2 linked regions of the Homo sapiens genome follow. The protein of the gene in region 1 interacts with the protein of each later gene in a pairwise test. Each region holds a gene or a part of one and is shown in the gene's direction. Other genes may lie near its edges.

Region 1 (3,911 bases):
AATAACATAATTACAAGCAGTTCCTTATTAAATTATTTAACCTGTCTTGGTCAACTTTTCCGATGATAACTATTGGCTATCAGTAATGTGATTAAGTGGAGAAAAGTGCGTCACTGCTTTTTGACATTGTGCAGTCTCTGGCTGCTGGTTTTGTGCTGGGTGGTGTGTTGTTGTTGATTTGGTTGTTTTAAAGATTTCCCCCCGCCCCCATTTTCTTAAAATAGAGTGTTGTGGTGGGGAGGGGGGCAGGTCCAGTTTGTAGATTAAATCCACTCGGCACAGATTGTTTTAAAATATACTTCCAAGCTGGACTTCACACTTAGAAATGAAAGTGGCTTCTTCGGTTTTGATGCTAACTTTAAGAATTGTGAGCCAAGTAAAGGAGAGCTCGTTGGGGCTTCCTGCAGCCCAGCACATATGCCTCCCACTCTCTGCATGCAATTAGTTTGCACATTTTATTTCCCCTTTAAAAAGTTTGTCCTTACCTAGGTAGCAAGGGTGTTAGATTTTAATGCCTGCAGTGGTAAACCAGTGTGCTTTTCTCTTAGAGTAAAACAGATCTGACAGGTAAACTAAGGTCTTTCTGACAAAGACAGAGGCGGTGTGCCCTTCTGTAATTATTTCACTCGATTCAGAGAAGCCTCTGGAACTCCGGCTGCTGGTTGACAGGGTGATTTTATTTCCTTTGTATATAATGGCTAAATGTTTTCGGAAATCGCTATAGTCTAATTAAGAGGTTTATGTAGGCAGCCCTAAGTTTCTCTGTTGTTGCACAGAGGAGGAGGAGGCTTCGTTTTAAGTACACTTTTATTGTTCATTTAGCCTTGTACCTTTGCAGTATAAACAGGGCTGAAAATAAAGGCATTTAATCTCCTCTCACTGACGGGCATGGAGGGGCAAAAAAAAAAAAAAAAAAAGGAAAGAAATAGCCCAGTAACTGATCAAAGAGTCAATGGCGCTGAACCGACAGTTTATGGATTTCTGTTTGTGCTACAAAATAAAAAATAAATCAAATATAAATACGGCGATCCATCGGAGGACAAGCCACTCTCTCAGAAGCGCTGGTGCCCGCCGCGGCCACGCGCCCTGCAGCGCCAGGCGACTCGTTGGCCTGCGGTGACACCCATCACTTCTGTGGTTCTGAGCCGGGTCCAGGCAGGAGGCTGGGTGAGCGGGGTTCGCGGGGAACCTTCCCTCTTCCCAGGAGGGCAGCCCCGGGCTTTCACCAGAAAGGGCTTTGTCCGCCTGGAAGTAGAGGAAAGTGTCAGAAGTGCCCGGGGAGGTTGGAAGGAATTTCCAGATAATTTTCAGGGGTGGGGGCGGGAACCGGAGAAGAGGACATCCCTCCCCCTTCCGTGGAATTTTATGCAGGGAACTTGGAGCTCCCGGCCCCAGCCTCCCGCCCCTCCCCCAGTAGACTTTTTTTTTTTTTCTTTTCTGTTTTTTCGCGAGGCCAGTGGTGGAGGCCCAGCCCGGGCGGGCGGCTCCCGATCCCCAGCTCGGGTTCCCAGCGGCGGAGCCGGGCTGAGCGCGGCCGTGAGCGCACCTAGGGCTTCGCACCATCTGGCGGAGCCTCTGCTCAAAACCCACCCGAGCGTGCGCGCAGAGACTGCCTTTTTACCCGAGAAAAATCACTGTTAGCAGTTTCAAAATAAACACCAGATTGGCCATTAGCACTTTCTTTCCAAATATCATCCGGCGAGGAGCACGTGGCCGCGCGGGCTCGGGCGCCCTGGGGCCCCGGCACTCCTGCGGGGCGCTGGCGACGCCGCGGCCCACGTGCGGTTGCTGCTCCTGGGCCTCCCGCCTGGGCTCCCAGGCCGCCCGCAGCGTGCAGAGGCCAGGTCGCTGCCCACCACTCAGGGAGGCCCCGGGAGCTCGGGACGGCGGCCGGTCCAGGGCGGCCTGCTCCCCGCGGGCGCCTGGGTTTGGAACGCGGGAAGCCGCGGGAAGCCGCGGGGCGCCAGACTTGCTAGAGCCGGGGGAGCGCGCAGGGCAGGGCGGGCGCGGCCCTCGGCCCTTGGCAAACTGCTCCTGCGCCGCGACCATCCTTCCCTGCTTCTTTAGCCTCGGGGCGTTCTGATCGGCCTCTCCCAACATGCAGATTGGAACTCGTTGTAGACAATGGCCTGAGGACGCGGCCTGGCGGCGGCGCGGAATGCCGAAGGGGCCCGGGAGCCCCGGGTTCCGGGGTCGGTGCCAGCGGGCTCTCGCTCCTTGCGCCCCGGCCCCGGCCTCCCTCGCCCTGCCCTCCCCGCGGCCCGAGCCCAGTCGGCGCCTTCCCTGCAGCCGAAGGCCCCTCGCAGGCCTGGCGGGCGCCCGGGGGAGGAGGCTGGGAGGCAGGGGAGGGAGAAGCCATCGCGGCCTAGCCCAGCTCCGAGGGTGACCCCATCGGGAGGGTGGCCGAGGGAGGGGGGCGCATCGCCTCCCCTCGAGCGTGGTGCACCTGCTGCCAGCCAGGCCTGCAGCGCCCGGGGCGATTTGGCGCCAAAGCCGCGGGCGCCGCGTAACCCCAGCCTCTGCTTGTCCCTCGCGCAGGCCATCGTCTACGAGGGCCAGGACAAGAACCCGGAGATGTGCCGTGTGCTGCTGACCCACGAGATCATGTGCAGGTGAGCGGCGGGCGGCGGGCGGCGGGGGCGCGGGCTGCCTCGGCGCCAGCTGCGTCTACAAAGGACGCCGCGTCCAGGCGCCGCCACCCCGCCCAGCTCCGGGAAGGGCATCGATTGAAATGTAATCGGCCCGAGGCCGCGCGCCGGGCCGCGGAGGAGCCCGCGCTCCTTCCCCCCAGCGCTGACGATCAACGCGACCCGCTGCTCAGCAGAGCGGATTAATATGTGGGCCGTGTCGTTGCAGTGTAGTCAAAAATGAAAACAGGTCTGGGTGATGCATCCGTCCGCGGTGCCGGAGGAGTCAGGGATCACTCGGAATCATTTTACTACTTCCTTCTCAGGCGCTCGCATCCTGAGATATACAATTGTCTGTTATTGATAAAAAGGAAACTCTTTTGTACTTACTATAGCGCGCGTGTATGTGAGAATTGGATTGTGATTCTGTCAGTTAACCTCTTCCCTAGAGCAGCGATGCAGCGTTCGTGTCGTTGTTAGATAGCGTGCCCGTTACTTGAGATCTCTGTCAGAAGAGCAATTTCCCACCTGTTTTTTCTAACTACCACAAGAGTTTCACCCCTACATGGCAAATAAAAATGCATCATTGACTTTGTATGTGTGGCATGTGAAATATAGTTGCAAGGAATAGCAAGGAAAGCGTTGCAGGCTTCCAGGCTACAGTAGCAGGCCGCATACTCTGAGGGGCATACTCCGCCTGGCTATGATGCCGGTTGCCTAAATGCCATTTCTGAGCAGACATATTGTTACAGCACTAATATACAAAAGCTGACTTTTTCTCATATCAGGTAATAAATATAAATTACAACCAATAAAGTGGAATTTCTTTATTATCCACTTCTGCATGTACTGCAATTAACATAGAAAGCGCACAGATGTGATTTAAGCTCTAAGTGGAAGACTGTAGACTTTCTTTAATCACTTTAGCTGTCAGCTTTAAAAGGCTTTATATACTTTGCCTACCATATGGTGTTAATTTAGCTAATTTAGACATGTAACCATTATACAAGTATGCTTTTTTAAAATGCAAGAAGCATAACATTTTTGTTTCATTTCTGCTTTAATTAAAGTTTCAATAACAGAGTTAAGGTAGGCTTAAAGAAGGAACAATAGAAGTTTGTGATAGATGGATGCATGCTTTTGTGGTTATAATTAATAAATGCCCCAAAGAAATATTGGTTGAAGGTGGCATCTTGCATCTTTTCCAGAAATAACAGCTTGACAATTAGAGGTAAACAAAAGCCGAAGCTGTGAAAAGTTATTCCCAAGCCTCCTGCCTTCCCT
Region 2 (3,911 bases), on another chromosome or scaffold:
TAAAAGAAGGAGACTGTTTCATGTAAGATTTTATTCAAGTTATTTTCAAAAGAAAACAAAGGACATAGATTTTCCCATTCTTGAAGGAAATGTTTGGAGTTCCTGTTGGATACACAAGCAAGCTGGTTAATTAGGTTAATTAATTGGAGAGAGGGGATGGGAAATGCCCTTGGGAGCTCTGTATCCTGCCGATGTATCACACACGCACACCCTGCGCACGCACACTGGCTTTCCACTCACTCCTTAGAGGCATCAGAGTCTTGCCTGAAATGGGTCTCTAGCTTTGTCCCACTCAGACACCGACTTTAGGTTTGAACTCGTTGTGCTGGCATGAGGTGGCACTGGTGGTGGGGAGGGTGGGAGAGCATGCCGAGATGCTCCTGATCAGACTTGTCCCCAGGCTGCGGGGCTGGCAGAGGTATGACCAGCATGTTCTGTTCCTCCCTTCTCCCTGGAGATCAGATGTTCCCTTCCCCCAGCTTTAATCAGAAGCGGTTGATTATACCGTGTTGAGTAGGGCAGACCTTGAATGGGGATATGAAAATCAAGCCAATCAATCAACATTAGCAGTAATGATACAAGCTGGTCCTGTCGCTTCCTGAGTTGTCTCAACGTTATTTTAAACTGCCTCTTTGAAAAATCTTTCTTACAGAAAGGAAGAGGTTTTATCAGAATGTCAGCATCACACAGGGTGAAGGTGAGTGTCTGAAATTTTGACTGCCTCTTTTTTTTTTTTTTTTTGTGAATGGTTGGGAACATTTTTCATCTTCAGCTGGTTTCATGGTGCGATTATCCTTCCTGCTTTTTGTGAGATATATTTCTGTAAGGGACTCAGAGTTGGCTTTGTCTGCACCAATTCAAGTGGCTAAATATAGGAATGGTCACTTGATTCCACTTAACAAATCCCTGAGAGTTTTTCATTTGATCTTTCAAGGTGGCTTTGAGATAAACCTGGACCACAGGAAGCTGAAAACTCCCCAAGCCAAGCTCTTTACCGTCCCCAGCGAGGCCCTGGCCATTGCAGTGGCTACTGAGTGGGATTCCCAGCAGGATACCATCAAGTACTACACCATGCACCTGGTAACAAGTTCACAGTGTGAACCTGGACCCTGAGACCCACCCAGGGCTTCGTAGGGTAGACCCTTTACCAAATTCCGACAAGGCCCTGGGGGCTGGTCCTTTGCCTGTCTGGCCCCCAGGGATTCACCTCCTCTCAAGTCACTAACGTGCTAAACTCTTTCCTTGTCTGGCCCGGCTACTTGCAGCTCTCTCTCCTAGGAACACTGTGCTGGATGGCTGGTTTCTCCTTTGGTTTCAGGACAGATGTCACCTTCATTGACTGCCCAGCTCTCTTATTTTCTATGACAGCAGCTGGCCATTTGTTTTGTCAGCACTTAGGCAATTTATAATTGTTTTATGTTTGCACATTTATTGTCTGTCTCTTCCACTGCCTGGTAAGCAACAGAAGGGCAGGAGCCATGTCTGTTTTACTCATCAGTGTCTGGACAGCCACTAGCAGGTAATTTAGTTGGTACTCAGTAAATATTAGTTGAATATAAGATCCACTGGAGGCAGATGGGTGAGGTGAGGAAGACTCCCTATAGAACCAGCCCCCTCGTCCACACCAAAGTGGCTCGCCTAGGCACCAAGGCTGCCTGGGGAAGGAAGGGCCCAGCTACACTCTTAGGTCCAGCCTCTGCAGCTTCTAAACTGTAACCTTGGGCAGGTTGCTACCCCTTTCGCAGCCCCATATTCCCCACCGATTAAAGATGAGTGATAATAGTACCCACCTCACGGAGCTGTGGTCAGGATGAGATGAGATGATGCAAGAAAGCCCTTGGCATGGTCCCCAGCACTGACTGGGCACTCAGTCAATACAGGAGTCAGCTGCTATCATCCCAGCCGCTGCTGTGCTCAACCTTTGCAAACCCAGGTGGGCCTCCTCCCAACATCACAGCCTGCTGAGGTGGTTGGCCTGGTCCTTGACAACCTAGTGAAATTAGGGTGATTAGGGCTACAAACGAATAGGGTAACCTAAGCAGCCTATTATTGACAAGGTAAGTCTGGAAAAAAAAAGATCTTTTTTTTTTTTTTAAACAGTCTAACTCTGTTGCCCAGGCTGCAGTGCAATGGCATAATCTCGGCTCACTGCAACCTCTGCCTCCTGGGTTCAAGCGATTCTCCCGTCTCAGCCTCCCAAGCAGCTGGGATTACAGACGTCCACCACCATGCCAGGCTAATTTTTGTATTTTTAGTAGAGATGGGGTTTTACCATGTTGGCCAGGCTGGTCTTGAACTCCTGACCTCAGGTGATCTGCCCACCTCAGCCTCCCAAAGTGCTGAGATTACAGGCGTGAGCCACCACACTTGGCCGAAAAAAATAATCTTGATCCCGATTTGCATGGGCTATTTCCCTACTTTCTAAGGTGTAAGGGAGGCAGCTGGTAAAGGTTTCCAGTCAGATTTGAGCTCCATCACTAATACATGTCTTATTAACTGTATTTGACAATGTACTTAACCTGTCTGGGCCTCAGTTTTCACATCCCAGATGGACATAATAATAGTACCTACTCCAAAAGGTTGTTGTGAGGATTAAATTAAATACACTAGAGCCTGGTAATAAAAGGCATGTGACCATGGGGGAGGTTCACTAATCCTGGGGCTGCTGCAAGCTTCCCTCGAGTCCTGTGAGCGTCAACACAAAGCATTTGGCATGGAGCCTGGTTGTGGCACACTCTCAGTAGCTGTGCTGCTGCTCCGGTAATGCAGACGCCTCTGGTGGAGGGCTGTGCTGTGGTGCTGTCTGCTATGTGTCAGATGTGGTGTCCTCAGGAAAGCAGGGCTTTTGCCTGAGCCCCGCAGGCAGTGACAGGGTGGTTTTTGCCTTTGATTCAGACCACATTGTGCAACACATCATTGGACAACCCAACCCAGAGAAACAAGGATCAGCTGATCCGGGCAGCCGTGAAGTTTCTGGACACCGACACCATCTGGTAATGGACATTTAGATGGGCATTCCCCTTGGATTGAGGCTATTTTTCCTGATTTGCCCAGATGGTTATCAGTGGAAGAAGAAACCCTCTCCATTTATTGCAAGGACAAGGAAGGTGGCCCACTTGACTTTGGCACTTGGCTGCTCTGTAGCCCCTTAGGAGGAGGACTCCTCGGGCTACAATGGTGTCAGAACATGGCCACCCCTCTTCTCTAGCCCAGAAGCTGCTCCTTAGGCTGGGAGGGTGGTTATGCAGCTCTTGCAGGTGCCGTGACCACAGGCCCCTTAGGCCTAGGGGGGCCTGTGACCTTAAACTTCTGCCCACCGACACTTTCTCAGGTAAAGCATCCTTGGCACTATGGATGCTGATAACTAGGAGTGTCCTTCTCCAGTTCTGAATTCTCCTCTGTGTCTATGTTTCTTGGCTAATTGTTCAGTGATGCCAAAGGAAAGTTGAGAAACAATGGAAATGATTGAGCAGCACCGTGCCTGCTAGCCCAAGTGCTCTAGGATCCTGAGTCATCTCACGATGACACAGGAAGTCAGCACTGATGGCTGGAGGCGTGCTTTCGAAGGGGGTGACCCATAGCTAGTGGGAACGCCCACTCCATTTATATTAGGGTTCACTTGATTGCAGGGAGCAGAAACCCATTCAACCTAGCTCAGACAAAAAGGGGATTCTTGAAAACTATACAGGGATCCTGACAGGAAATGAAGGACAGTTGGGTCACCAGGAAAGGTAGCTGGAAGATCCAATGTCAGAGCTCCTCCCTGTGCCCTACTAGGGTGAGAGGAAGGTGAGGGAGGAAAGGCTGGTTGTCCATCTGCCCCTCCCAGCACCCCAGCTTTTCCTGCATAACTCATGACCTCTCTTCCCCACTTTGCTTACACAAGACAGTGGATTTCCATAGTGCCCACT

Evidence for each region.
Region 2: the proteins of EBF3 (region 1) and ATPAF2 interact in binary tests that used the Homo sapiens proteins (3 or more experiments, as listed by UniProt).

What each region holds. Positions count from the first base shown.
Region 1 is NC_000010.11:129,957,635-129,961,545, reverse strand, and holds part of EBF3 (transcription factor COE3), read left to right. Parts: intron 1-2,538; coding exon 2,539-2,612; intron 2,613-3,911. UniProt on the Homo sapiens protein: Transcriptional activator. Recognizes variations of the palindromic sequence 5'-ATTCCCNNGGGAATT-3'.
Region 2 is NC_000017.11:18,025,401-18,029,311, reverse strand, and holds part of ATPAF2 (ATP synthase mitochondrial F1 complex assembly factor 2), read left to right. Parts: intron 1-652; coding exon 653-697; intron 698-934; coding exon 935-1,080; intron 1,081-2,895; coding exon 2,896-2,993; intron 2,994-3,911. UniProt on the Homo sapiens protein: Plays a role in the assembly of the F1 component of the mitochondrial ATP synthase (ATPase).